6 linked regions of the Homo sapiens genome follow. The protein of the gene in region 1 purifies or fractionates together with the protein of each later gene. This does not show direct contact. Each region holds a gene or a part of one and is shown in the gene's direction. Other genes may lie near its edges.

Region 1 (5,432 bases):
ATGGTCAGCCTGGCTTGGTGGGTGGGCTGCCTGTGCTGCCTTCACCCCAGGACGGCCTGGCCTGTGGGGAGGTCAGCATGGAGCTGCATCATGGTGCGAGTGGGAGGGCGCAAGTGTGTGGGCCTTCCAGCTGTGTGGGGCCGGGGGCTTCCTCCCTGGCCCTCTGTTCATCTGGGAGGGGAGGGAGTTGGGAAGATAGTGACAGCAGCTGATGTTTGTCACCCAGGCATGGCGCTTTAGCTGTACTGTCTCAGTCGACCCCCAGGATGACCTGCTTAGGGTGGGCTGGTGGAACCCCGTTTTACAGATGTGAAAGCTGGGGCCTCAGAGGTGCCCAAACCATGGAGCTGGGGCAGCCCCCGGCCAGTGGACTGTGGGCCTGCGCTGGGCTGTGCCCCAGAGGAGGCTACTCTCTGTTCCACTTTTCCCTGCTCTGACTTCAGCCGAAGAGCCCTGATCTTTTCCCTTCCATAAACATCTGCCTGGCATGCTGCCACCCAAAGAGCTCCCGTGCCCCGGGGACAGTCCTCTTGGCCTCAAGTCTAGGCCTGCTTTCGCTTCCCTCTGAGGGACACAAGGACTCACGGAGGCATTCCTGTGCCCCCCGCTGCCCACAGCCTCCGGCTCTTGGTGGAGTGGGACTGCTAAGGAATCCTTTACCCACCAAGAAAAAATGAGGATCCAATGCAAGAATGTATGTGAGAGGGGCCGCCGAGGGGGCGGCAACATGTCAGCACTCCATCATTTTCCTGCCTGAGCTAAGCAGACACTTGGTGGCCACGCTGTGGGGCAGGGTGCAGCCTTCCAGAGGCTCTGGAGGTGACCGGCCTTTGGCATATCTTCTGAGGAAATCTCTTTCTTTGCATGGAAAAGGCAGTGGGGAGTGAGTGTGGTGTGGACAGGGGAGGAGAGCAACAAAAATGACCTGTTTACCCACAAACCACGGGTAAGTGCCCCTGTGGTCGCAGGGTAAACCCACCCAGGTGGGAGGAAAGGACTGGGGCTCCCTGGAAAAAGCTTGAAACTGCCCTGGAGGTTTGAGAATCTCGGTGCCAGTGGGCTGCTGCCAGCTGTGAGGCTGCTCACCTATAGGCAGGCCAGCAGGTGAGGAGGGGGAGGGTGCTAGGCTCCTGGGAGACACATAGCCAAGTCCTCCCACCCAAGGAGTCGGTGTAGCAGGAGCTCCCTTCGCCTTTTCCTGCGGAGCTCTTCCTGTCCCTTCTGTATATTTCTTCTTTTTTTTCTAATTATAAATAACGCATCCCCAATGGAGAAAATATGGAAATTTTCCATATGGAAATATAGAAAAGCATAAAGAAGGAGGAAAACACAACTCTACAGCAATTCCATAGCACGTGGGAGTGAGGAGGGTGGCATGCAAGCAGTCCTACAGTTGTTGCCATTCCTTTAAAAAAACTTCATGAGATCATGTTGTTTACCATTAAATTTTCTTGGCTTCACATTACATCACAAGCATTTCCCATGTCATCAAAACCTGTGCAAACACATTATTGTTAATGGTTACATAATGTCTGTGGGAGCCAGGGTGTGGAATCTTTAAATTGCTTCTCATGATTTTCTGTTGTAAATAATGCTGCTTTGAACATCTTTCTGCGTACATCTTGGTTCCCATTTTGGAATATTTCCTGGGGTTGGATTTCTGGAATAGTAATGACTGGGCTCAGGGGCATAACCCGCCACCATGCCTAGCTAATTTTTTTGTATTTTTTAGTAGAGATGGGGTTTCACCGTGTTAGCCAGGATGGTCTCCATCTCCTGACCTCGTGATGCACCCGCCCTGGCCTCCCAAAGTGTTGGGATTACAGGCGTCAGCCACTGTGCCCGGCTTTTTTTGTTTTGTTTTGTTTTTGAGATGGAGTCTCGCTCTATCACCCAGGCTGGAATGCAATGGCGCGATCTCGGCTCACTGCAACTTCCGCCTCACAGGCTCAAGCAACTCTCCTGCCTCAGCCTCCCGAGTAGCTGGGACTATAGGCGCCCACTATCATGCTGGGCTAATTTTTGTACTTTTAGTAGAGACGGGGATTCACCATGTTGGCCAGGGTGGTTTTGAATTCGTGACCTCAAATGATCCGCCTGTCTCAGCGTCCCAAAGTGCTGGGATTACAGGCGTGAGCCACCGCGCCTGGCCGGGCATAAATACCTTAAAGGCTCTTGATAAGTTTTGCAAACAGCTTCCCGGAGAAGCTGCCGTGATGCTCAGCAGTGCCTGCGGGCCGCCTCCTGAAGGCCTTCCTGGCGCTCAGCACTGCATTTACAAAGCTCCCAGGCAGGAGTGGCACCTCATGGTTGTATTTTGAATCTCTTGCTTTCTCGTGGGTTCAAGAGCCACTTGTGTTTGCTGTCTTGTTGCTGTGCTTGTCCCGAAGGCTCCCCTCGCCTCTTCCTGACTTTGCCCTATGTGGTAACTTGAGCTCTTTTGACATGGCCTTTCCCAGCGCTCAGCAGAGTAGACATTTGGTGCCCAGGAGGAGGGTGAGATTTACACCCCACACCTGCTCTCTGATGCCAGTGCCGCCTGCTCCCAGCTGGGAAAGACCTGTCCTCCTAGTGGGCAGCATCCGATAACTCGCCTGGAGCAGGGCTTAGAGGATTGTAGATCTGCATGTGGGAGATAGCAGGGTGATAACGTCTGACGTTCATCCTGCTCTGAGCAGGGTGTCTCCACACCTGAGCTCCTCGCTGGTGCTCCCGGCACCTCTTGAGCAGCAGGTGCTGGGGCATGCACTCCCTAAGGTTATCTCCTCCAGCGGCATTAGCGGTGGGTATGGTTCTTTTCACTTGTCAATTTGAAATGATTTCAGACTTTCAGTAAAGTTGCAAGAGTAAGACAAAGAATTCTCGTACCCCTGACCCCAGTTCCCCCAATACTAGCATTTGCTTCATTGTTCCCGTTTTTCCCTGAACCATGTGAGTGGGTGTAAATTGCAGATGTGGTGCTCGTGGACCCTTGAGTTCCTCAGTGTTTTTCCCTAAGAATGAGGCTGTTCTCTAACATAACCACAGTCCACTGATCAAGATCAGGAAATTGATATCAACGCAATCCTCTTTCAAACCTGCAGACCTTATTTAAATTGTATCGTTGTCCCCTGATGTCCTCTTAGCAATAGAAACCCGGATCCAATCCAGGATCGTGTGTGGCTCTCACCATTGTTGCTTTGGTCTCCTTTCATCTGAAACCGTTCTTGCGTCTTTGTCTCTCACGACCTTTGACATGTTTGAAGAGTCCAAGCCAGTTATTCTGTGGAATTTCCCTGAATTTGAGTTTGCCCCTTGCTTTCTCCTGATTAAATTCAGGCCGTGCACGGCAGCGGGAACCCCATCAGGAGGTGTGTGGTATCCCTTCGGTGCTAGTGATATTAACCTTCATCTCTCGGTCAGCGTGGTGTCCGCCAGGTTTCTCCACTGTGCAATGAATAAGGACAAGGTATATTTTAGAAAGAGGAGGAGCCCAGAGTCCAGCAAGGTTACTCTACCCACGTTCACCATAGCCGGGTGTGACCTGGGTGCCTCCTGGTCACCGCAGTGGCCCCTTCCCAGCCCCCATCTTACCCTGCCTCTGGGAGTCATGCTCTGCCCAACTCGCGCCCCATCCTCCTGAGAGCCGCTCGCTTCTGCCCAGCGACCCGTGCGTCCCTCCCTCCTCCAGGCATCCCCCCTGGGCTCCTTCTTGGCTCTTCCTCCTCGGCCAGACTCAACTCCAGTGGGCCTGAAGACGCAGGCCTGACCCACTTCTCCCAGGCTGTTCTCTCCCTGGCTTCAGACACCACCGCCCCTGTGATGCTGCCCAGGTTCTTGTCCCTGCTCTTCCCCCTCTGTGAGCTTGCCTCACTCCCAGCCCTGCCTTTTCTGTCTTGCCCTTCTTATAGCAGGAAAAGTCATCTCCACCCACCCATACAGGATTTCTTCCTCTACCTTGCTTTCTATGGGGGGTCTCTCGACGAATCTTGTCTGTCATAGCCCAGATGTTTCCTAAGCCCCACCCCGACCCCCATAGCTTCCCCCTGTCAGAGGCTCCGCGTCTCTCAGCTCAGCCTCTGAATTGCCCCAGACATGCGTCGTCTGTCAGCCCCTGCTGCTCGCCAGTCCAGAGAGATCCTTTCCACTGTGCATCGATCATGTCCCTCCTGTCCTGTCCATGGCTGAAGGGAGGCCTCAACCACTGGGCCCTGTCTGTGGCTGCAGCCCCACCTCAGGCCGTGGGCTCACACTTCCCTCTCTCAGGACAGCACCAAGCCTGTTCTTCCTGAGAACTTCACAATTGCTATCCCTTCTTCCTGGAGCTTTCTCTGCGGATCTGTGCGTGGCCGACTTCTCCCCATCCAGGTCCCAGCTTCTGTGTCCCCTCCTCAGAGAGGCCTTTTCTAATATCCAGCCCCCAAACCCCTGCACCCGCCCCAGATCATTCGCAAAATGTCACCTGTTTCTTATCTTCCAGGCACTTGTGATCTGAAATGTTCTGATTTGTGTCTTGTTTTTCTTTTCTTTGCTCCTTTCACTGCCATTCATCTTCCATGAGCAGAACCCTTCACTGTTGTGTTCTCGACTCCTAAGGCTTAGAACTGTGCCTGGCATAAGGTCTGCCCCTAGTGGGGTTTTCTGTTTTTCTCCCCTGGCTGTGGGTCTTTCCTCCTCCTCCTCTTCTCTTTCTTCTACTTATTTCCTTGTTTCTTCTCTTTTCTTTTTCTTCTGTCTTTATTTCCCCTTTTCTAGGTTGTTGGCTGTAATATGGCACTAAGGTTTTTGCAATATTTGTTTCATTTCTTGAGTATGTTTTTATGTTCCTTACTTAAAACAAAATGGCTGAGTCAAGTGTTTTAAACGTTTTCTAAGAAATGAATCAGATCGGCCGGGTGTGGTGGCTCACACCTGTAATGCTAGCACTTTGTGAGGCCGAGGCGGGTAGACCACTTGAGGTCAGGAGTTCAAGACCAGCCTGGCCAACATGGTGAAACCCCATCTTTATTTAAAATACAGCCAGGCGTGGTGGTTCACACCTGTAATCCCAGCACTTTGGGAGGCCAAGGCAGGTGGATCGCCTGAGGTCAGGAGGTCGAGGCCAGCCTGGCCAAGATGGTGAAACCCTGTCTCTACTAAAAATACAAAAATTAGCTGGGCGTGGTGGCGGGTGCCTGTAATTCCAGCTACTCGGGAGGCTGAGGCAGGAGAATCACTCGAACCCAGGAGGCGGAGGTTGCAGTGAGCCGAGATCGCACCATTGCGCTCCAGCCTGGGTGACAGAGCAAGACTCTGTCTCAAAAAAAAAAAGAAAAAAGAAAAGAAACAAAACAAAAACAAAATTAGCCAGGCATGGTGGTGCATGCCTATAATCCCAGCTACTTGGGAGGCTGAGGCAGGAGAATTGCCTGAACCTGGGAGGCAGAGGTTACAGTGAGCAGAGATCATGCCAT
Region 2 (5,432 bases), on another chromosome or scaffold:
GGTGAATTAGTTGCTCTTTTGTGTTGTGTGGTAATTAGTGTGAATAACAAGTGTCACTTCAAAAGTCATCATTATACCTTGCATCATATATGATTATAAAAGATAAAAGCTATGGAGTTTTGACATTTAAGTAATTATTGAAACAGGAAAAGCAAAATAAATCTATTGACATTTCTAATGTTATGATTGTTAAATTAATATATTATCTTTCTCAGGCTCCTGAAATGTATATCAGTGTGATATGTAAACACTTGCAACAAGTGAAAGAATTAATGGGTAGATTCAATATGAAAAAGAAAACTTCAAACTTTGATGTTTAAGTAGCTCTGCGTATTTATTGCCATGTCCACAGATGTCATCGCAACAGATAAAGAAGACGTTGCCTTCAAAGACCTGGATGTGGCCATTCTTGTGGGCTCCATGCCAAGAAGGGAAGGCATGGAGAGAAAAGATTTACTGAAAGCAAATGTGAAAATCTTCAAATCCCAGGGTGCAGCCTTAGATAAATACGCCAAGAAGTCAGTTAAGGTGACCAATGCTGTATTTTATGGGATTTTTCATTATTAGCATTTGAAACTTATGCTTTTAGCATTTAAGCAAAACCAAAATTATTTGCCCTTTTTTCTAGTTCTGTACAATCATCAGTAAATACGGCTCTAGAGTTTTGCTTGATAAGCTCTCCCTTTCTGGGTTTTTTCTTACAGTATAGAAATCTATATTCAGAGTGCTCAAAAATATTTTTCCTATTAGTATAACGTGAAAATTTAGTATTAGTTCTTAAACATATAGAGAAGGCACAGGATCTTCTGGTGCATTTTTGCTGCGTGGGAATATTTATTTAGACATTTAAATTTGTGTGTGATTGTGAAAGGAGATAGCTAGCTGTAAGGTAAGTTTATTCTCAGGAATAGAAGATAGTGGTTTCTGAATGCTCAGATTTTCTTAATGCAGAGGAATTTTAATATGCTTGTCTCTTGAAGAATTGAGTCAGTATGACTTATAGTTCTCTCTTTGTGTTCAAACTATTTACTTTAGATTCTAATATGTCTTAATATTACAGTAAGCCTTTTTTATTTTTTATTAATTTTTTTAATTTTTTTGAGACGGAGTCTTGCTCTGTCACCCAGGCTGGAGTGCAGTGGTGCAATCTTGGCTCACTGCAACCTCTGCCTCCCGGGTTCAAGCGATTCTCCTGTCTCAGCCTCGTGAGTAGATGGGACTACCGTTGCACGCCACCACACCCAGCTAATTTTTGTATTTTTAGTAGAGACGGGATTTCACCATGTTGGCCAGGCTGGTCTCGAACTCCTGACCTCAGGTGATCCACCTGTCTTGGCCTCCCAAAGTGCTGGGATTACAGGTGTGAGCCACCACGCCCAGCCAAACCTTCTTTTATTAGTGAACTATCAATTAACTAGAACTTAATTGTCACCCAGCAAATAGGCTTGCCGGTTAAAGGTTTAACTGATTTCCATATACTTTCCTATCTTTCAAAAAAAGGTGAAAGAAAATTTTTTAAGATTTTTTAAGTTGCCCATTATAATGTTCTATCAATAACATTTCATAGATATCTGCATTTTTTGCTTTCTGTGCACTTCATTTTAAATAGTTAACTTATTTTCTGTCATCACAGAAAATAGTATAAATGAGTTTAATAGAAATCCACAGGTGCCAGTAAAAGATTAGAAGATTGTTCAGACTGCTAAATTGCAGGCTATTTGGAGGTAAAGTACTCCTTGCACAGTAATTCCACTTCTTCAAAGCGTCCTTGTTCGTGAGAAATATTTGCCAGCACTGCACTACTTAGAGACAATGAAGTATCTTGTCTACAGCTTGTCAAAAGAGGTACCAAAAAAAAAAAAAAAAAAGATATATGGGAGTCAGTCTCTGTAATATGGTTGTAACTTTTCTATAAATCTGATATTATTTCAAAATTTTTTATTACCATTTTATAAAAGATTTTTATAACTTAAAATGCATTTTCCTATGCTATATTGTATTTGGTGTTTCCCAAGCCTCCCCTGTACAAAGGCTACCTGTTAGACATTTTCAGTCAAATTTTAACATAGATTAGTTAGTAACTATATAGTCTGTAACTCTTCAGTGCCTTCCATTCCTCCTAGGTTATTGTTGTGGGTAATCCAGCCAATACCAACTGCCTGACTGCTTCCAAGTCAGCTCCATCCATCCCCAAGGAGAACTTCAGTTGCTTGACTCGTTTGGATCACAACCGAGCTAAAGCTCAAGTAAGAAAAATATATTTTAAATCTTGTGGTTGTTCAACTTTAAAACATTTTTCTCTCACTTTTAAAATAACTGAATCTGAGTTTGTGCTTTTTTCTTGTTTTTGTTTAGTAGGAACCTATTACTTTTATTAAATTAAAAGTAAATTATTATTCATTTGTTAGGGAGTCTTTAAATGTATTCTCTTAAAGGACCAGAGGCTGGACTTCCTACTTGATTTCGTCTTTAACTATATTTCAATTGCTAACTATAATGAAATGCAGTTACTAATGTTCTCTTGTTACAGTGGTTAAAAATTAGTTATACATGATGGTACATAATTTAGTTTAATTTTTTCAGATACATATAATCTCATATAAACAAAGACTTGAGCTTTGTGTGATTGTGTGGTTCTGCTTCTATTTTAGCTGCAGCTAAGCCATCAAATTCAGATTTTAATTTTTAATTTTATATTTAATTTTCATTTTATGTCTTTTTAATATTCTATGTGTATCTGTAAAATTTCCTCCTTTCACTACTTAGGAGCTAAAGTCTGTTGCTAATTTTCTTTACTCTTAGAGCCATAGATAAGTATGCCAAGGAGCCAGTGACCAGGGAATTAACAATAGCTTTTCAAAAAATTAGAAGCCAGGCAACTGATCTGAGCTAGTTTCCTAGGCTTTTTCAGATCTAACTGGTCCTGGTGCCCGTTCTTGGACAGAACCTCTTTCCTTTGCCCTAATGCTTTTCTGGCCATCCCTTCTTGTCTGTAGGTCATCACTGCTAGATAGGTCTATGAGTTCAGTGCTTTTTCTTCTAGAGAAGATAACTTTAGTTTCAAAAAAAAATTGTTGTTAACCAGAAGATGCTGTGAGGTCTAAGCTGAAGCACTACTGCCCTAACCTGAGAATTAATAATCCTTCAGCTCTGGAATGCCTAGTGAAAGAGAAAAGAATATACATTTGTTAAGCATCTACTGTAAATTGAATGCTATACATGTAATTTTCCATTTAATTTTTATAGTAACCATATGGGTATCTCATATTATCCCTGCATTAGGTAAGAAAACTGAGGCCCAGGGAAGTCAGAGAACCTGCTCAGAGTCATACAGCTCATAAATTACGGAGCCACCTTGATTTGCCTGACTCCAAACCCTTATGTATGTTCTTACCTAATGGTATCAACTAACCTTAGTCCACTTACTAGCTCTGTGATTTTGAGAAAGTATATTCAATGTTTAAAATGTAATAATTGTATCTACCTCAGAGAGTTCTTATGAGGATTAAATAAGATCTGTTTTAAGCCCTTAGCATGGTGCCTGCACATAGTAAATACAAGAAAGGTTGGCTGCTATTATTAGTTGATTTCTTCTTTCTAAGAAGCATACAGCCTAAACATTCCTAATTTAGAGGGTTGTTGGATAACAACCCTTAAATTTTTAGCTTAAAGTGCAAATATTCCCTGAGAGGCTATAGGCTGTGAGCTGGGTCTGGTGGTAGCTGAGAACGAATAGGAGTTTGTTTGAATGGCAGGCAGTTTGAGTTCTGTGGGACAGTTGTAAAGGAAGAGATATTATACATGTTACAGTTGCAAACTCTGGATTGCCAGAAAGTGACTTATTTAGTTCCTACAACAAGAAAGTTCCTACAACAATGACACTAACAACCACTTTTTGTTGTTTCACCTGAGGCTTTGGTGGAGACAGGCATTGGAAAATTCTGCTTCCAAAGGTACTTCAAAGAGATACTTTGTCCTGGTGCCTGAAACAGTTCTCACTGCAGGGCTCAAGTCTGAATGAGCAAAGAGGAAAGAAAGTGCTATCTCCTCAGACTTTAACCTTCACTTGGGGACATGTTCTTTGTTACTCCTGGGACCTTGGCTAGGCATTGTTTCAGCATGTCAATCTGGCATAGTGAGAGCTTTTAGGGAGTCATTGAAGAAGCACTTTCTTCCTCTAGAAGAAGTTGTTTATCCAGTGAGAAAAATAACAAACCCAAAGATAAGTTTTTCTTACAGGACTGGTTGCTAGATATTTTTGTCTTGGAATTCAGAGGCCTTAGCGACTTAGGGACTGTTTAACACCTGCAGAACTTGCCTGTGTATTTGCAAACCAGTGCTGTATTTATGTCTGCTGATAAGGTAATTTGACATTGATACCAGATAAGGTAATTTGACAATGATACCAGTTAGCTTGTAAGAAAATTACTAGGGCTGGAGAATTAATCAAAAACTTTTAACAGACCTATGTGACAGACATGAGTGTCTAAGGGAGCAAAGAGCTGTTATCCTGGGTATGTATTAATTTAGACTAATTGTGACATGAATCATATTAAGAAACTATATCTGCTGGATGCAAAGTACCTGGCCTTTGCTGTCCAGACAGAACTGGATTAGCTCAAGAGATAGAAGGAGCAAGAGGAGGAGGGCAACAAGAACAAAGGAAGGCATGGGAGCCAAGGAGGACTGAGGGTGGAGAGGCCTAGAGGCATTTTGTCTTCACTGTACTTGGGAGCATTGAAGCAGACATTCAGGGAAGTTATAGGCTCTAACTTCCTGGTAATATATATCTTGAGTTAATTGTTCAAGGTATAAATTTATCTTTTTCTATATACCATACCAGCTAAATTTAAGTATAAATATAAGAGCAGTTTCTTCCCCAGTTCTTTCTGGTCATGGCAGACGTAAAAAATGGTACTCATTGAACAGCGTGCCACTCTACCCTATCCCACAGGCTAAGCAGATCAATAGCTGGGTACCCCAGAAACCCAACTGTGAACTAATTTGTGGAGACTAATGCAAATATTGTAGATAATAGTCCTAATACTTGCAAGACTTGCAGGGATTAGATCGGTCAAAAGTGATTTACAATATCACAAACATAAATTTTTAAGTAAACTTTTAACTATTTTAGGATTTAAGAAAGCAGTCTCAACTAGTTTAAGAGTGGGAGTGAAAGTAAAGACAGTTTACTTCTTACTTAACTGAATAAATTAGTATGAAGACCAGTCGAGTCATTGCAGACATTTTAGGTAATGGCCTTTTTTTTCATCTTTATCCTTTTCGGTTGGTTGGTTGGGGTTTTTTTTTTTTTTTTTTTTTGCTTTTTATTTTGAAATAATTTTAGACTCAAAAGTCGCAAAAAAATAGTACAGAGAAGGCCCATGTACCCATCACCCATTGATGGTACCTTACATAACTACAGAGTATTA
Region 3 (5,432 bases), on another chromosome or scaffold:
CAGTATCAAGTTTGATATTACTAGGTGATGTGGCAATTTGGAAACTGCTAGACTGGAGGTTAGAAGACCTGGGTTCAAGTCTTAGATTCATCATGATAACCTTGCTAAGTTATGTCACTTCTCTGGTTCAGTTTCTTTTATTTGTAAAATGGAGAGAAATAATACCTTTCTGCCTGTCTCACAGAGCAGATTGCCCAACACGTGATATAATGGGTACAAATCCCCTTGTAAGACGGGACAAGAATCAGCCAATTTCAGGAATAAGGGCAGCTCATCGTTTTCCCTTACCACACTTCACCCTTTCACCATCCAGGAATTACACTGTTGTCAATATTTTATAGGTGTTTCAAATGATTGGTATGCGACACTTGATATGCTAAAAGAAAGCTGTCGAATTGCCAGCAGTGTTAATTGGTCAGATGTAGACCTTTCACAGTTTCAAGGTGAGTGTTGGTTCTTTTTGACATATAACCAAATACACATGATCCTGTTTCTCTGCTAGATTATAACTTTCTTTGTAGTAGAAATAAACATCATCTTATATAGCATTTCTTTTGCAGTTGGTAAAATTCATAATAATTTTGGCCACTTGGTATAGCAGAGGGTCACAGACAAGTTCTGAAAGAAATTTGACCACATTTAAAATAATTGGGCTTTGAATAATTTAAAAAGGTCATTCTTCATTGCGTGGATAAATCACTACCATAAAGTGGAGTGAGTGGAAATTTTGAGAGCTGAAAAAAATTATGTCTTGCTATTTTCCTTGCAATGTTTATTGCATAACAGTGCTAACATATTTTTAATGCTTTCCTCATAGGTCTGATGGAGAGTATGAGACAGGCAGATCTCAAGAACTGGTCTTTAGACCAGGTTCAGTTTGCCGATCTTTGTTCTTCTCTTAATCAGTTCTTTACACAAACTGGCCTTATACATTCACAGAGTAATGTTCAACAAAATGTTTGTCATGGTGCCATGCATCCAACAAAACCTTCCCAACACATTGGAACAGGTATGGGGTTAGTTATCTTCTTGATTTTTCTCATTTTCTCATTCGTACGAAATTTAGTAACTGTCTTAACCAACTTGGTTTGCTGCTAATGGTGACAGTGATCTGTTTACAAATTTTTATTTATAAGAAATGAATGAAAGCAAATAATTTATATGTAGGGTATATCTTAGAAAAATTGAGGTAATGAGACTATGTTTTTCTGTTGTGATTTATATGATTGCTTTATTATTTACAGTTAACTGTTGTAACCATTATCCTTTTACTAAGTTATCAAACAAGAAATATATTGGAGATACTTACGTTTTTATAGGAACATAATTATGAAATTATATTTAAATTTGTACAGATCTGCAATGGAAATCAACGTGTCTTGTGTATCTCCTAAGAATGTTAAAATTGAACAATTCGAAGTGTTTGAAGAGTAGACGTAATGGAAAATAGTCTCACTGATGTTTTACTTTAGACCCAAAATCTTTCCTGTATATTTTTTAAATCTCGCTTTCTTCCTTCATTCTTTACCCTTGCAGCCATGTCTTCTACTCTGATTGCACATTTTTCTGTAGGAATTTCATATCCAAGTTACTTCTTTCTTCATTTTAATTCCTTACCTTCTCTTATCATCAAGTTTACTTCTTTTCTGTATGTTATATTGATTTTACATTTTATGCCAACAAGCTCTCTCTTCTCTATCCTGAGTGGCTTCCTTTAACCATTATTCTATCTTACTTCACATCTTTCGTTCACCCATGGTTTGAGTTTATTCAAGTCAAGCTTATCAGTCTGTGTCTTTCTTTTCATGAAATCTTTATTCCTGTATCCTTTGATGTAGTGGAAATCTATTATCTTTTCTTCTTCCACGTTGAATAGCTTTTCCTAAGCTATTTTGAATAGCTTACCTTGCCTGAAACCTTCAGTCACTATTTGATTCTGGTGACCTATTCATTCAGTAAATTACATCCACACAAGGGCCTTGTTCAGTCCCTGGCTGATTGCCCTCTGTGCCAGACACTAAAATTTAGTTTTTGATAACTTTATAGCTTCTTTGTCTCTCTCTCTCTCTCCTTTTGTTAGTTCTTTTTGGTATCTTTCTGATATATATTCATTTTTAAGCATCAAGATCTCTGTAATTCAGGTATCCTCACTTATGTGCCCTTCTTCCATTTCTTTTTTTAAAATCTTTTCTTGCAGATGGACAGCGTGTCTTCTTTGTTTCTCTCATGGGTTCTAAGCCCATACTTTGTCCCTTTCAGGATATATCACTTTAATTTTTCCAACTTGCTTTAAGTCCTCCTTAGACCAGGTGTACCACCTCTCTCTGTTTTTTGTCCCTTTTTTCTCCTTTCCTCTTTTCTTTCTGTGTTCATCCAAAATTGTTGCTTCTGAGTGCTGTCATGCTGTTCACTTCTTTGCTAACTCCATCTCTAACCATTTCAGTCAGCCTCAAAAAGTACTAAGTGAAATTAAATAGCTTATGTATATATCACTAGTCTTGTGTGTTTGGGGGTAAGTACCTGTGTTGCTCATAGATTGTTGCCGTAGGCAGGAGAAGTAGAAGATGATGTGGGTCAGTGTTAGAAGAAGGCAGTCTCGGCCAGGCATGGTGGCTCATGCCTGCAATCCCAGCACTTTGGGAGGCCGAGGCGGGCTGATCACCTGAAGTCAAGAGTTCGAGACCAGCCTGGCCAACATGGCGAAACCCCGTCTCTACTAAAAATACAAAAATTAGCCGGACCTGGTGGCACATGCCTGTAATCCCAGCCACCCGGGAGGTTGAGGCAGGGGAATCGCTGGAACCTGGGAGGCGGAGGTTGTAGTGAGCCGAGATCACACCAGTGCACTCCAGCCTGGGTGACAGAGGGAGACTTCGTCTCAAAAGAAGAAGAAGAAGAAGGCAATCTCAAAAGCCAGTGTACATGTTAGGCAGCAGCTCTCATGTTGGTGAATTTCAGTTTTGTGCCCTAAGTCTGTAAGAAAGGTCTATGTGTACCTTTTGGTCTTGGAACTTGGTAGTTTTGTCATGGAAAAAACACTTTATCTGCTGCTGTCCTCTGTCAGAGTACCCAGGCACTCCTTCTAGATTCTCTCTAGACTGAGATCCTGAGTTATTTTCCTGAAGCCCTTTGTTCCTCAACTTCTGTAGTCATCTATTCTTGAGCCTTGACCTTGGTTATTTGTTCTGGTGTTCTGTGATTCTGTTAATTTTTTCTGTCATCTCTTTTGTTAGGGCCCTCCTCCTTTCTAGGGTCCCGATGACACCTTCGTGATTCTCAGTGCTACCCTAGTCACAGCCTATCAAAGGTAGAAAAACTATAGTTTTTCTTCAGTGTTTATTCAATTCTTTCTACTCTCACTCCCCTTTTGTATTTTCCTTCTGACTCATGCCTGCCAAGCTGTTTTGGCCTCTGACAACAGTTGTTCTCTCATCAATTATGGTGCTCCAAGTATTCATCACTTCATGCCTGCTGATGTCTGTTCACAAATATTCAGATTTTTTTTACGTGTCCAGCCTGCTTCCTCTTGTTTTAAGTGTCAGTGTCTTTCTGTCATTCCTTTTTTCTCTGTCTTACATCCCTGTGTATCACATCCATTCAGATCTTTTACTTCCCTCATCTCTGCACCCCAGTAATTCTTTGTCATAATTTCTTAGAAGTATAGTCAAGAGGAGACTTTCAGAGAGCTGTTAATTTTATCCCTTTATTTAACAGATAAGGACATTGTAATCCAGGGGGAGAAAGTGACTTACCCAATGTTGTAAAATTCATTTAGGTGTAGGTCTTGAGTCCCAGAATATAGTCTCTCCATTTCCTTAAACCTTTCCTGTCATTCCTGTCTTCAAGGACCCGCTTGGTAAACACCTCCATGAGCTTCCTGTAGACTCCAGAAATTAGTGGTGTAGTGTGCTAGTGTGGAAGGGGGAAGGGGAGAAGGTTGTTATAGAACACAGTCTATGACATCTTTTCCTAAATCTTTTTACCTGTGGTTATAATTTGTTTATATCTTCTGGCTCTACTATTCTAATTTGATGCGTTGCTTAAAGGTCATCATTAAATATAGGTAGGAATGCAGTCATTGAGCACACACTAGACACCTTTTCTGTGTCTAGCTTTGTATTGGGCACTGAGAATAAAGACATGACCCCTGTAGTAGCTTTTACCTAAAAGAGTTCACAACCTAGTGGTTGAGACAGATCCATCAAGAAATACAGTATGTTCACTTTGGGAGACCGAGGCAGGCGGATCATGAGGTCAGGAGATCGAGACCACCTTGGTTAACATGGTGAAACCCCGTCTCTACTAAAAAAATACAAAAAAATTAGCCAGGCGTGGTGGCAGGCGCCTGTAGTCCCGGCTACTCAGGAGGCTGAGGCAGGAGAATGGCATGAACCAGGGAGGCAGAGCTTGCAGTGAGCCAAGATCGCGCCACCACACTCCAGCCTGGGCGACAGAGCGAGACTCCATCTCAAAAAAAAAAAAAAAAAAAAAAATTCAGTATGTTGAGGGCTACACTTCTCCATAGGGTTTAAGTGCAATAAGAATTCAGAGAAAGGGGTGCATACTTCTCTTGGAAAGATGGAAAATTTTTCTAGAAGACAGCATATTTAAGCTGGACTTTGTAGGTTAAGTAGGATTTTGCAAGACAGAGAGGTCAGATCATGTCACGTCTGTTTTCTGCTCAAAACCCTCCATCTTTCTCAGTAAAGACCAATGTTGTTACTATGGCCTATATGGCCTACACAATCTGATCACTGATTATTTCTGATCTTGTCTTCTGCCTTCTCCCCTCCACGCCTGTGCTTCAACACTGCTGGTCTCCCTGGTGTTCTTTGAACACACTAGGTAGCACACTCTACCTAAACAGGGCCTTTGTACTTGCTATTTCCTCTTGTCCAGAGTGGTCTTCCCTCAGTTAGACACATGACTCATTTCCTCATCTTGTTCCGTTGTTTTTCCTCAAAAAACACCTGCTCAGGGGATGCCTTCCTTGGTCATCCTATTTAAATGGCACCACTACTCAGCAGTCCTTGTTCTCTCTCTCTGCTTTTTTTCCATAGCATGTTACATACTATTTAATTTACTTTGTTTGCCCCTACCCAACATGCCCAAGAATACACACCCGAAAAGCAGAGTTGTGTTTTTTCATTGCTGTATCCATAGTGCCTCGAGCAGTGCCTGAAATCTTTGGAAACTGCATTGGAAGTTAATTTCTTACATAGGAAATTCAGGAATACACTCATTCAGACTCTATATTGAGAATATGGGAAAAAATGAGAATTAATGGGAATTTCTATATGAAAATAAAAGTGTTACGCATATGATGGAATTACAGAAAGTTAAGACTTTTATGTAGATGTTTGTTTATTGTCATAATCCTGTAATTCTTTCTCCCCTCTGCCTTTAAGGTAAGAATTACGAAGCCATAAAAG
Region 4 (3,500 bases), on another chromosome or scaffold:
ACTAAAGAGTTCAGAATTTTAAAGCTAATCCATGTCTTTTTCTTTTAGGATTAAAATAATGCAGAATATTGGAGTTACATTTATTCAGGCTGGTCAGTATTCAGATGCTATTAATTCATATGAGCACATAATGAGCATGGCACCAAATCTGAAGGCAGGCTACAACCTAACTATCTGTTATTTTGCTATTGGAGACCGAGAAAAAATGAAGAAGGCATTCCAAAAATTGATTACTGTTCCATTAGAAATTGATGAAGATAAATATATTTCACCAAGTGTGAGTATGAAAAAGACATTTCTGTAGCCACTTCCCACTTATCTGTGCTTTTCTGTTTTCAGAATGAGAAAGCCAGAATAGATGACTTCTTGGGTTTTTCCCAGGCCTGTATCAATGTGTTTTATTATTGATGTATTTCATTTTTTATTTAAATTGGGTTGAGAATGAGACTCTATTGAAATGGGGTAGAGATTATGGTTAAAACAGACTGCACAATTTTAGTAAAAAAATCATTAAAAATAAGATTCCATGTCATTCATTAAGCATAATATCTTTTTTTTTTTTTTTTTTTTGAGACAGAGAGCCTGCCTTCCAGGCTGGAGTGCAGTGGTGCAGTCTCAGCTCACTGCAATCTCTGCCTCCCAGGCTCTGGCAATTCTCATGCCTCAGCCTCCTGAGTAGCTGGGATTACAGGCATGCGCCACCATGCCCGGCTAAGTTTTTTATTTTTAGTAGAGAAGGGGTTTTGCCATGTTGCCCAGGCTGGTCTTGAACTCCTGGCCTCATGTGATCCACCTGCCTCCACTTTCCAAAGTGCTGGGATTACAGGTATGAGCCTGGCCAAGGGTAATATCTTGACCAAGAAACCTCCAAATCCTTATTTCACCTATTAAGAGCCATTGTGGAGCAGAGGGAACCTCAACTGTGTATAAATATCTCAAGAGCGAAGGCTGGGCGCAGTGGCTCACACCTGTAATTCCAGCACTTTGGGAGGCTGAGGTGGGCAGATTGCGAGGTCAGTAGTTTGAGACCAGCCTGACCAACAGGGCGAAATGCTGTCTCTACCGAAAATACAAAAATTAGCTGGGTATGGTGGTGGGCGCCTGTAATCCCAGCTACTTGGGAGGCTGAGGCAGGAGAATTGCTTGAACTTGGGAGGTGGAGGTTGCAGTGAGCCAAGATTGTGCCACTGCACTCCATCCTGGGTGACAGAGCAAGACTCTGTCTTGAAAAAAAAAAAGTGAAATAAATTCCTTATCCTTACTCATAGAGTGGAACATAATGCAGTTATCAAAAGTCATATTTTCAAACACCTAGAGAAATATTATATAATGTTAAGTGAAAACATACAGCTATGCACACTTATACATGAACATAAACTGGAAGAATTGACACCAATATAAAACAGTAGTTTCTGAGCTATGAGATTGTAAATGCTTTTGAAATATTTTCCAGATTTTTACAAATAAAATATTGGCATACTGTATATTAGTTTAAGGAAAATTGCCTCTATTTGTAGATAAAAATGGTACATTTTCAATTTCACAGAGTTGAACTTTTAATAGATTTTCTTAACAGATTATATTAGCTGGGCATGGTGGCGGGTGCCTGTAATCCCAGTTACTAGGGAGGCTGAGGCAGGAGAATCACTTGAACCCGGAAGGTGGAGGTTGCAGGAGCCGAGATCGCACTATTCACTCCAGCCTGGGTGACAAGAGCAAAACTCCATCTCAAAAAAAAAAAAAAAAAGATTATAAGAGTACTGTAGCATAGCAGAGTATAGGCTCTGAAGCCAGATGCCTTGGCTCTCCTACTCAGCTCTTACTCTCCCTGTGTCTCAGTTCTTTTATATATGTAATGGGATTAACTATTATAACCTATCTTACAGGGTTAAGGTGAGGATTATAGGTGAGGATTAAATGAGTTAATGCATGTGAAATGCTTAAAATAGTACCTGGCAGCTGGGCACAGTGGCTCACACCTGTAATCCCAGCACTTTGGGAGGCCGAGGTGGGAGGATTGCTTGAGCCTGAGAGTTCAAGATCAGCCTGCGCAACATGGCGAAACTCCATCTCTACAAAAAAATACGAAAATTAGCCAGGCTTGATGTTGCACACCTGTAGTCCCAGCTACTTGGGAGGCTGAGGTGGGAGGATCACCTGAGCCCGAGGAGGTCAAGGCTGCAGTGAGCCGTGATCACACCCCTGCACACTAGCTTGGGTGACAGAGTAAGACCTTGTCTCAAAAAAATAAAAAATTAGCCAGCCTGGTGGTGTGCACCTGTAGTCCCAGCTACTCTGGAGGCTGAGGTGGGAGGATCATCTAAGCCCGGGGAGGTCAAGGGTTTAGTGAGTTGTGATCACAACATTGCTCTCCAGCCTGGATGACAGAGTGAGACCTTGTCTCAAAAGTAAAATAACAAATAAAAAAAATATATATTAGCCAGGCATGGTGGCACATGTCTGTAGTCCCACCTACTCGAGAAGCTGAGTGGGAAGATGGCTTGAGCCCAGAAGTTGAGACTGCAGTGACCCATGATCATGCCACAGTGCTCCAGTCTGGGCAACAGAGCAAGACTCTGTCTCAAAACAAAACTAACCAAACAAAAAAAATGTATGTGAAAGATAGTTAAGTGCTGGGCAAATGTTAATTATTATATATTATTTTCATATTGAGAAAAAATAATATATGTTGTAAAATCATCTGTGTTTTTAATGGGGAGTAGAGATATGGATCATACTAAGTAATTGATGATTGAAGCATTTATATTTGAGTTTAGAATTAAAGTATTACATATTTGTACTAACAACCCCAGCTTCTGTGTACTTGGTCCTAATCTTTCCATCCTGATCCTTTTATCAGCTTCTTAGAATAGGTTAGTTCAATGGAGAATGTGATTGGTAATCAGAAATATGAAAAAGAAAGTTCTAATTTACATAAGGGAAAATAGAAGGATTAATTTACTCTCCCTTTTTTAAAACTAATTAGTAGGGAGGCTTATTGGAAATTCAAGTTCGTGGCTGGACATGATGGCTTATGCCTATAGTCCCAATACTTTGAAAGGCTGAGGTGAGCAAATTGCTTGAGCCAAGGAATTGAAGACCAGCCTGGGCAAAATGGTGAAACCTCATCTCTACAAAAAATACAAAAATTAGCCAGGCATCATGGCATGCCCCTGTAGTCCCAGCTACTTGGGAGGCTGAGGTGGGAGGATCACCTGAGCCCAGGGAGGTGGAGGCTGCAGTGAGCCATGATCATGCCACTGCACTGCAGCCTGGGCAATAGAGTGAGGCTGTATCTCAAAACAAAACAAAACAAAAATTAAGTTCTTGCTGTTTACTTCTGAATTATTCTTTTTTTCTTCCATTTTATTTTACCAGGATGATCCTCATACTAACTTAGTAACTGAAGCTATAAAAAATGATCACCTCAGGCAAATGGAACGTGAAAGGTAATATTTTAAACTTAATAACGTAGTTATTAATTACATTATTTAAAATAT
Region 5 (5,432 bases), on another chromosome or scaffold:
TTTTTTTTTGATGGAGTCTTGCTCTGTCACCCAGGCTGGAGTGCAGTGGCACGATCTCGGCTCACTGCAACCTCCGCCTCCTGGGTTCAAGTGATTCTCCTTCCTCAGCCTCCTGAGTAGCTGGGACTACAGGCACCTGCTACCACGCCCAGCTAATTTTTTTTTTTTTTGTATTTTTAGTAGAGATGGAGTTTCACCATGTTGGCCAGGCTGGTCTCGAACACCTGACCTCAGACGATCTGCCCACCTCATCCTCCCAAAGTGCTGGAATTATAGGCATGAGCTACCGTGTCCGGCCCACTCCTCCTCACTTTAACCCCTCCCGTGGCTTCTGGTTGCTTCTATTCTATTCTATTCTATTCTATTCTATTCTATTCTATTCTATTCTATTCTATTCTATTCTATTCTATTCTTTTGAGACAGTCTTCCTCTGTTGCCCAGGCTGGAGTGCAGTGGTATGATCTCGGCTCACAGCAACCTCTGCCTCCTGGGTTCAAGCGATTTTCCTGGCTCAGCCTCCCGAGTAGCTGGAATTACAGGCACGCACCATCATGTGGAGGGAATTTTTGTACTTTTAGTAGAGATGAGGTTTTACCATGTTGACCAGGCTGGTCATGAACTCCTGACCTCAGATGATCTGCCCGCCTCGGCCTCCCAAGGTGCTGGGATTACAGGCATGAGCCACCACACCTGGCCTTCTGGTTGCATTTAGAATCTGAGGGAGGCTCTACAGGGTCCGGTCCCATCCATCTCACCATGCATCTCTGTGGCCTTGCTCCTCCTCACTTGTTGTAGAGACGAGGTGTCACTGTGTGGCCCAGGCTGGTCTCAAACTCCTAAGCTTAAGCCATCCTCCTGCTCAGCCTCCCAAAACACTGGGATTATAGGCATGAGCCACTGTGCCCAGCCTGGGCCTTAGCCATGCGGGTCCCACTTGCTCCTTGAGCACATCTAGCTTTTTCCATCTCAGGCAGTTTCCACGTCGGCTTCTCCTGCCTGGATGTATCCCCCACCCCCATACCTCCAGCTCCTCTCACGTCTCCCTCCTCCATCTGTTCCTCCAGGTGTCAGCTTACCTGTCATTTCTCAGAGCACCCTCCCCTCACCTCTCAATCAAAAGTGACCTTGTCCTAGTTGTTCCTGAGACTCGTCCACAGCAATGATCACAGCGAAGAGTTGTATTTGTTTCTGGTTTCTTCGCTTCATATCTGTCTCCTTGGTTGACTCTCAGCCCCACGAAGGCAGGGCCTATGCCTGCTTTACCCACTGCTGCATACTCATCGTGTAGCCCTGGCCCCACATCTTTTAAATGCTCAATAAATACTCATTCCTGAGTGGATGCATAAAGCATGCATCAGGAAAGGGCCCATACTGGGCACAGTGGCTCTTGCCTGTAATCCCAGTGCTTAGGAGGCTACGCAGGAGGATGGCTTGGGCTCAGGAGTTTGAGACCAGCCTGGGCAACATAGCAAGACCTCGTCTCTACAAACAATAATAATAGTTTAAAAATTAGCTGGGTGTGGTGATGCGTGCCTGTAGTCCCAGCCACTTGGGAGGCTGAGGTGGGAGGATCACTTGATGGGAGATGGAGGCTGTAGTGAGCCATGATGGCGCCACTGCACTGCAGCCTGGGTGACAGAGCAAGACCCTGTCTCAAAAAAAAAAAGAAAAGAAAAAAGAAAAAAACAAAAAGAGAAAAAGAGCTCAGCCTTGTAGAGGAGAGAGGCTGGAGGCTGCATATCAGTGAGGCAACAGGACAACAGTTGAATAGTTGAGAAGAGAAATGAAAAAGGCCTTCCTTTAGTCTTTAACAGCAGAGGCAGGAAAAGCGGATAGATTCAGGAGCTCCAGAAAGTAGAACCAACTGACTGATAGAACACAGCAAGAGACAGGGACAGCAGATCTACACTGGGGGCTACAACTCAGGTGGTTGAGAAGAACATAGTGCAATTAAATGAAGTAACATGGGGGAAGGATAGCATATTTTGGGCTGTATCTCAACAGCCAAAGCTTGGAATTTGAGATGCTTGAAGGACATCTAGGTGGACATGTCTGGGAGGCAGTTGAAAATACAGTTCTGGCTCTCAGAAGTGAAACAATACTATATGAACAATACTATTTTGGATGATATTTATGAGTTCTTAGCACATGTCCGGTCCCATGTTAAGCCTAGAGGCAGCATCGTACATTGGTTAAGAGCTCAATTACTCTGAACTGAGTCAGATTGTTGGAGTTCACTTGCAAGTTCTCCAACTTGCATGATCTGTAACCCTCAGCAAGGTGCTTAAGCTTACTGTGCCCCATCTGTGCATATCTGGGGTAGTAATGGTACCTACCACGTTGGGCTACTTCCTATCAGGATTACAGTGAATTTAGAATAGTGTGTAGCACTCAATGAGTTTTATCTGTTTTTTGTTTTGTTTTGTGTTTTGAGACAGAGCCTTGCTGTGTCGCCCAGGCTGGAGTGCAGTGGTGCGATCATAGTGCACTGCAGCCTCGACCTCCTGGGCTCCAGTGATCCTCCCACCTCAGCTTCCTGAGTAGCTGGGACTACAGGCATGCACCACCATGCAAGGCTATTTTTTTTATTTTTGTAGAGATGAGGTCTCACTATGTTGTCCAGGCTGATCTCAAACTCCTGGCCTCAAGCAATCCTCCCATCTTGGCCTCCCAAATCTGTCATATTTTTATGATTGTCGTTAATCATCATAACAAGGCTGAGTGGTAGATAGGATTAGCATCCTCATGTTTTGACACGACGAAACTGAGGCTTAGAAAATTTAAGGTTGGGCCCAGTGGCTCACGCCTGTAACACTAGCACTTTAAGAGGCCGAGGCGGGTGGATCATTTGAGGTCAGGAGTTCAAGACCAGCCTGGCCAACGTGGTGAAACCCTGTCTCTACTAAAAATACAGAAATTAGCCAGGCGTGGTGGCACGTGCCTGTAATCCCAGCTACTTGGGAGGCTGAGGCAGGAGAATCGCTTGAGCCTGGCAGATGGAGGTTGCCGTGAGCTGAGGTGGTGCCACTGCACTCCAGTCTGGGCGTCTGGGCGACAGAGTGAGACCCTGTCTCAAAAAAAAAAAAAAAAAAAAAAAAAAGAAAAGAAAAAGAAAATTTAAGTAATTTCCCTGAAGTCACCCAGCTGGTAAACGGTGGAGCTGGGATTTGAATCTGACTCATTCATCCTGCATTGTCAGGTCTAAGTCCTGACTGAGCCACTAGCCAAAGAGAATGAGAGTCCTTCACAAGTAGTGAATGAGACATCACTCAGAAAAAGCCTGTTTGAGGCATGGTGCTGGGGTTAAGAGTAAAAGGCTTCAAGGAAGAACGACAAGAAAAAGGGAGAAAGACACTTTGATGTGTAGCGGGAGAGCCAAGCACTGTTGGGAGAGGAAAAAAGTTTGGGGCGTGTTGTGTGGCTCAGATACTCAGTGGTGCCACCTACCTGTGGGAGGACTTAAATCAGTAACTTTGGGATTTTGATTCCTGGCGGTATCTGGGTTTCTTGCTAAAAGTTGGTTCCATCTGATGCCTTCCCGAGCTATCCTGACCTTGGCTTTAATAATTCATAAATGCCACTAACGATCTACAAGTGAAAAGCATTTTCACATCAAGGTCTAATTGGACCCTCGTGGCCACCCGGAGACACAGGAACGACTAAATACATTCTGCAGATGAGGAAACAAAGGCTCATAGAGGGGAAGGGGTTTACGTTGCCTAAGAACTCTGACACTAGTATAGACAGGCCCGCACTGACTCTGAGATACATCACGTACCAGCTGTGGTCCTTTGGTAAGTTACTTAACCTCCCAAGCCTCAGTTTCCCTTTTCTGTGAAGTGGAGATGATCATGCCTGCCCTTAGATTTTCAGGAGCAAATTGGATTGTGGATACAAAGCTTAGGACATCCGGTATACAGTAAGCAGTCAATAATTGGGAGCCAGCCGTAGAAGTGGTGATAGTAGCTGAGACTCAAGTCAAATCCAGACCACCAATTCCAAACTGTGGGTTCTTGTTGCTGCTGAGAATGGCATGGTCATCTGTCATCAAGGAAACGGCACGAAGGAAAATAGAGCTAGTAATAACTATGGTTAATGAGGACGGTAAATGCTAATCACTGAAGGACTTTCGTCTCCAGCTAAGGAGATGAGTGTGATTCATGGGGAGGATTTAAGGCTATTGTTAAGGTTCCAACAATGAGAAGGGCCCTTGCAGCCATTAATATGGGTTAGAACCCAGACCCTGCCCTTTCCTCCCTGGGTGACCAATCCAGGTCTGAGTGTTAGTTTCTGCATCTATAAAATGGGGGTTAAAACATGTATTACTTGATTTATGAAAGCCAAGTGACATAAAGTGTGTTGAACATCGAGCCTGGAGTACAGTAAGTGTTCAACAAGTGTTTCATTTTTTTCTTTCCATCACACTTTCCTAAGGACAGTACATGACAGTAGAGTTATGCATCAGGAATACAGTCTGAGAAGTGCATTGTTAGGCAATGTCGTCCTTGTGTGAGCATCATAGAGTGTACTCACACGAACCTAGATGGTAGTGCCTGCTACACACCTGGGCTATATGATACAGCCTGTGCTTCCAGGCTACAAACCTGTACATACACACATGTAGAAACACACACACATATCACACACACATATGTAGAAACATATGTGTGTGTGTGGTATATGTGTGTGTATGTGTGTATTTAGAGATAGGGTCTCACTCTGTTACTGAGGCTATAGTACAGTGGCACAATCATAGCTCACTGCAGCCTTGACCTCCTGGGCTCAAGTGATCCTCTTGCCTCAGCCTCCTGAATAGCTGGGACCACAGGCATACACCACCATGCCTGGCTAATTTAAATGAAAATTTTGTAGAGGTGGGGTCTCACTATGTTGTCCAGGCTGGTCTTGAACTTCTGGCTTTAAGCGATCCTTTGTCTTGGTCTCCCAAAATGCTGGGATTACAGGTGTGAGCTACCATGCCTGGTCTATTTTTTAAATTACTGTGGATGGAAAGAAAAATGGCATGTATGACGTCAAATCTAGGAGGTAATGGGAAGAGGAAGGGGACGTGTGGGATGAAAATTTTTGTCTTCTTTTCCACAGAGAAGAGGGCAGCCAAGATGACCCGATGGTCCAGTTACCTGTTGGGATGGACAACCTTCCTTCTCTATTCCTATGAGTCAAGTGGAGGTAAGGACACTCAAAGCAACAGGGAGGATTTAGAAGCTGGAGAAGAATGAATGGGGCAAAGCAAAGATTCCTGGAACTAAGTAGGCAGGAGATGGCTTAGCAAAAATCTCAGAAGAAGCTGGGCGCGGTGGCTGACACCTGTAATCCCAGCACTTTGCAGGGCTGAGGCAGGCAGATCACTTGAGGTCAGGAGTTCCAGAGCAGCCTGCCCAACATGGTGAAACCCCATCTCTACTAAAAAT
Region 6 (4,162 bases), on another chromosome or scaffold:
TAAATTATCATGCCTGTCCCAGCTGAAGACCTGCTGGTGCCTGCTTTCACATCTTTCTTCAACAACTTTAGTGTTCTGCATTCCGAAGACTAATCTAAGCTTCATGTCTTCCTTTCATCCCTTGGGCAGATGGAAAAAAGAAAGTAACTCTTTCTGCATCTTGTAAAATTAGCTTATGTTGTAATTTATGCTGGCGAAGGCAAACTGGAGAGGAGAGGGGAGAGAAAAGAAAATCAGGCCAGGCACAGTGGCTCACACTTATAATCCCAGCATTTTGAGAGGCCAGGGCGGGCAGATTGCTTGAGCCCAGGAGTTCGAAACTAGCGGGGCAACATGGTGAGACCCAGTCTCTACAAAAAATATACAAAAATTAGCCAGGCGTGATGGTGTGCACCTGTAGTCCCAGCTACTCAGAAGGCTGAGGCAAGCAGATCAGTTGAACCTGGGAGGTCAAGGCTGCAGTGAGCCGAGATCATGCCACTGTGCTCCAACCTGGGTGACAGAACAAGGCCCTATCTCAAAAAAAAAAAAAAAAAGCAAAAGTTAGAGTCCATTACAATCATTTGAATGGTTCCTTGGTGGATACAAAGACAAAACATACTGATTTTCAAGAACATAATTAGTTTGAGGAGATAAATAATACCATTTGGGTGTGTGTATGTGTTTTTGTTTTTGTTTTCTTTAAAGACAGAGTCTCACTCTGTTGCCCAGTTTGGAGTGCAGTGACGTGATCTCAGCTCACTGCAATCTCTGCCTCCCGGACTCAAGCAATCCTCTTGCGTCGGCCTCCAAAGCTGGGACTACAGACATGTGCCACCACACCTGGCTAATTTTTTTGTATTTTTTGTAGAGATGGGGTTTCACCATGTTGGCCAGGCTGGTCTTGAATGCCTGAGCTCAAGTGATCCTGCCTCGGCCTCCCAAAGTGCTTGGATTACAGGCGTGAGCCACCTGTAATCGTGGCTGGCCAATATTTGGGAATTTTTAAAGGTTTTTTGCTGAATATATATTTTTACAAACAAATTTACAGGTATATTTTATTGTGGTGGTTTGATTCATTTAATTAAGAACAAAATATTTTATAGTCTTTGAGAGCTAAACATGTTCCTGATTTTATCATCGTGTAAACAGACATATAGTAGCCAGTAAATGGAAAGAAGCAATAGAAAGCCGTATAAGAGGTTTGAGATGAAATATAAAATATATATTGTTAAGCTTTTCTATAGTTTTTTTTTTCCACATAAGATTTTGACTGAAATACACAGGGACAGCTGAAATATTAAAGTTTGAAAAATTGTGTATTTTGTGTGAGCTGTTAGCTTGTTTTTCAGCCCTGGCTAAGATAAATCATCTCTTGAGAAAGATTGCATCTTTTATTATTTTCATACTAACATTATTATTATTTTTTAATGGATTACATTCAAGGCAGAAGAGTAAATGGCCCAGAGAGACTTATCTTTGGAAATAAATGTTAACAGACAGTAAAGTTTTCTGTGGATCTGTAGATTTTTTTTTTTTTTTTTTGAGACAGAGTTTCTTGTTGCCCAGGCTGGAGTGCAATGGCATGATCTCGGCTCACTGCAACTTCCGCCTCCTGGGTTCAAGGGATTCTCCTGCCTCAGCCTCCCGAGTAGCTGGGATTACAGGCGTGTGCCACCACGCCTGGCTAATTTTGTATTTTTAATAGAGATGGGGTTTCTCCATGTTGGTCAGGCTTGTCTCGAACTCCCAACCTCAGGTGATCCACCCGCCTCGGCTTCCCAAAGTACTGGGATTACAGGCATGAGCCACTGCACCTGGCCAGATCTGTAGATGTTTAACCCTTCTGTTGAAACAGCTGGTGGCATGGAGACAGCAGCTTTCTTTCAAAGCTGAAAGGATTTCCAAGCCAGTTTATGGTACCTTCCTTGGGTTTAGTAAATCTCAGCTTCACAGTAAAATTCCCTGGCCTGCTTAGGTTTGAACATGGCTAGATCTGTCTTTTCAGAGACAGAGCTTGTTATTATCAGTTACTGAAACCTACAATGTTTTCCTTAATCCTAATAGGTTACATATGTAGCGTGCCAATTTGCTTCTGCTCAGTTGTTTTTATAATCAAACTTTTATCCGGCATTTCATTAGTGCCTCTTACCTGGGGCAGTCTTTTTAATGAACATTATTAAGCAGCCCCTTCATCACCATGCTTGCTGTGCTGCAGGCTTCAGAGGGAGTGTAATCAATTCACCTGGTTGCAGATGACAAGAGTGGCTTTCTTTTTATTGGGTGTTGATACTTTAGGGTCCCTATTATGAATGTTTTATGAGCAAAGGTTTGATTCATGTCTGTCAATGTAAGAATGGTTTAATAGTTGATGCCAGGTTCAGATACCGAAGGGAGTTTATATAAAAAAAGCAAACTGCCACCTACTAATAACCTTTAAAAAGTAATATTTCTCAGTCATTTTTCGTTATACATTTGAGGTTGTCAATGAGAAGGAAACTAAAATTTCTACTTAAAAGTTTCTTCTGCAAGCAGTTTAAAGTTATTGTTTTTCCTATTGTAGCAAAAAATAAAGACCTACATTTGAAGGTATCTATTTTATTAATAAAATGTACTGAAGCTGGCCGGGTGTGGTGGCTCACGCCTGTAATCGCAGCACTTTGGGAGGCTGAGGTGGGCGGATCACCTGAGGTCAGGAGTTCAAAACTGGCCTGGCCAACATGGCGAAACCCCGTCTCTTCTACAAATACAAAAATTAGCCAAGTGTGGTAGCGCACTCCTGTAATACCAGCTGCTAGGGAGGCTGAGGCAGGAGAATTGCTTGAACCCAGAGGGCGGAGATTGCAGTGAACTGAGATCGTGCCACTGCACTGCACTCCAGCCTGGGTGACAGAGCGAGACTCCATCTCAAAAATAATAATAATAATAAATAAGATAAAATGTACTGAAGCCTATTCAATAATTTTCATAGTTTCTTAAGAGTTTGGATGGGGGTTGGGGAATATACATTTTCCAGTAAAGTTTGAGGTTATTACCTGGGTATATGTGGTTCTGCATATTAATGACAGAATACACCAACTTGGCTTATATATTTGTGTGGGAAGAAAAGGAATAGGAAAATTTTTCCTGAAATAAGTAAACGTATTGTCAAATTAGGGGTTACTTTGAGATCTCTTATAAAAGTAGTTCCTTAAGCCTTAAGCCTGACATGACATTCTGTGGTGGCCTGGGATGAAGGTCATATCATTTTTTTCCACGTTTTCCCCCTCTGTCTTGAACGTAGTTTCTGTTGTGAGATTATGGTACATGGATGCTAATCAGTAGATCCATATATTACCTGAAGGAAAACTTCCTTGGCATTTCTGCACATGGAGAGTGTATAAATGGTAGTTTGGTGGTAAATTCATAACTCTTTTTTTGTTCTTTTGTCAGGGTATGGGATGATGGGATCATTGATCCAGCAGACACCAGACTGGTCTTGGGTCTCAGTTTTAGTGCAGCCCTCAACGCACCAATAGAGAAGACTGACTTCGGTATCTTCAGGATGTAACTGGAATAAAGGATGTTTTCTGTTGGACATGTACTGAAAATTAACACATGTAGTAGCCTTAAAATTTTAGACTTCTCGAACATGAGGCTGTTACAGTAATTTTTTTAACACTGTGCATTGTACTTTTCTACCTTAAAAAAATCAGTGAGGATATTTATTTAATGAACATCAATTCCTTTTAAATTTTCTTAGAGAAATTTCTCTGTGGCTCAGTTTTACCACCCATAAAGCGGAGACAGTAATTTACGGTTATCCTTTCTGACCCACAAAGTATGAAAAGTTCTGTAATCTGTAAACTCAGTTCTGTAATCTGTATTATTGAGATGATTAATATAAAGTTGTATTTTCACTGAAATGATTGTTTTGCTGGTTATGCTTGGTGATATTTTAGCGGGCTTATTTTTGAAAGGCATCTGTTACTTCAGTGGCATAAAGTGCCCTCACACTGCTGTGCAGCCATCACCACCATTCATCTCCAGAATTTGTTCTCAGTCCCAAACTGAAACTATACCATTCAAACAACAGCGCTCCCCATTTCCCCCTCCCCCGAGCCCATGACATCTCCTTATTATTATTTTTTTTTTGAGACAGGGTGTTTCTCTGTTGCCCAGGCTGGAGTGCGGTGGTGTGATC

The links.
Region 2: the proteins of PC (region 1) and MDH1 purify together in Homo sapiens (co-immunoprecipitation; one study listed by IntAct). This does not show direct contact.
Region 3: the proteins of PC (region 1) and FOXJ3 fractionate together in Homo sapiens (co-fractionation; one large-scale study listed by BioGRID). This does not show direct contact.
Region 4: the proteins of PC (region 1) and IFT88 purify together in Homo sapiens (co-immunoprecipitation; one large-scale study listed by IntAct). This does not show direct contact.
Region 5: the proteins of PC (region 1) and ELSPBP1 purify together in Homo sapiens (co-immunoprecipitation; one large-scale study listed by IntAct). This does not show direct contact.
Region 6: the proteins of PC (region 1) and MCCC2 purify together in Homo sapiens (affinity purification with mass spectrometry, with the first as the bait; one large-scale study listed by BioGRID). This does not show direct contact.

Annotation. Positions count from the first base shown.
Region 1 is NC_000011.10:66,873,824-66,879,255, reverse strand, and holds part of PC (pyruvate carboxylase, mitochondrial precursor), read left to right. Parts: exon of another isoform or gene 1-946; intron 947-5,432. UniProt on the Homo sapiens protein: Pyruvate carboxylase catalyzes a 2-step reaction, involving the ATP-dependent carboxylation of the covalently attached biotin in the first step and the transfer of the carboxyl group to pyruvate in the second.
Region 2 is NC_000002.12:63,597,047-63,602,478, forward strand, and holds part of MDH1 (malate dehydrogenase, cytoplasmic), read left to right. Parts: intron 1-352; coding exon 353-528; intron 529-2,123; coding exon 2,124-2,246; intron 2,247-5,432. UniProt on the Homo sapiens protein: Catalyzes the reduction of aromatic alpha-keto acids in the presence of NADH. Plays essential roles in the malate-aspartate shuttle and the tricarboxylic acid cycle, important in mitochondrial NADH supply for oxidative phosphorylation.
Region 3 is NC_000001.11:42,184,314-42,189,745, reverse strand, and holds part of FOXJ3 (forkhead box protein J3), read left to right. Parts: intron 1-341; coding exon 342-443; intron 444-817; coding exon 818-1,009; intron 1,010-5,432.
Region 4 is NC_000013.11:20,601,657-20,605,156, forward strand, and holds part of IFT88 (intraflagellar transport protein 88 homolog), read left to right. Parts: intron 1-48; coding exon 49-277; intron 278-3,378; coding exon 3,379-3,449; intron 3,450-3,500. UniProt on the Homo sapiens protein: Positively regulates primary cilium biogenesis. Also involved in autophagy since it is required for trafficking of ATG16L and the expansion of the autophagic compartment.
Region 5 is NC_000019.10:48,003,548-48,008,979, forward strand, and holds part of ELSPBP1 (epididymal sperm-binding protein 1 precursor), read left to right. Parts: intron 1-3,534; exon of another isoform or gene 3,535-3,676; coding exon of another isoform or gene 3,677-3,794; intron 3,795-5,103; coding exon of another isoform or gene 5,104-5,120; coding exon 5,121-5,190; intron 5,191-5,432.
Region 6 is NC_000005.10:71,653,332-71,657,493, forward strand, and holds part of MCCC2 (methylcrotonoyl-CoA carboxylase beta chain, mitochondrial isoform 1 precursor), read left to right. Parts: intron 1-3,411; coding exon 3,412-3,529; 3' UTR 3,530-4,162. UniProt on the Homo sapiens protein: Carboxyltransferase subunit of the 3-methylcrotonyl-CoA carboxylase, an enzyme that catalyzes the conversion of 3-methylcrotonyl-CoA to 3-methylglutaconyl-CoA, a critical step for leucine and isovaleric acid catabolism.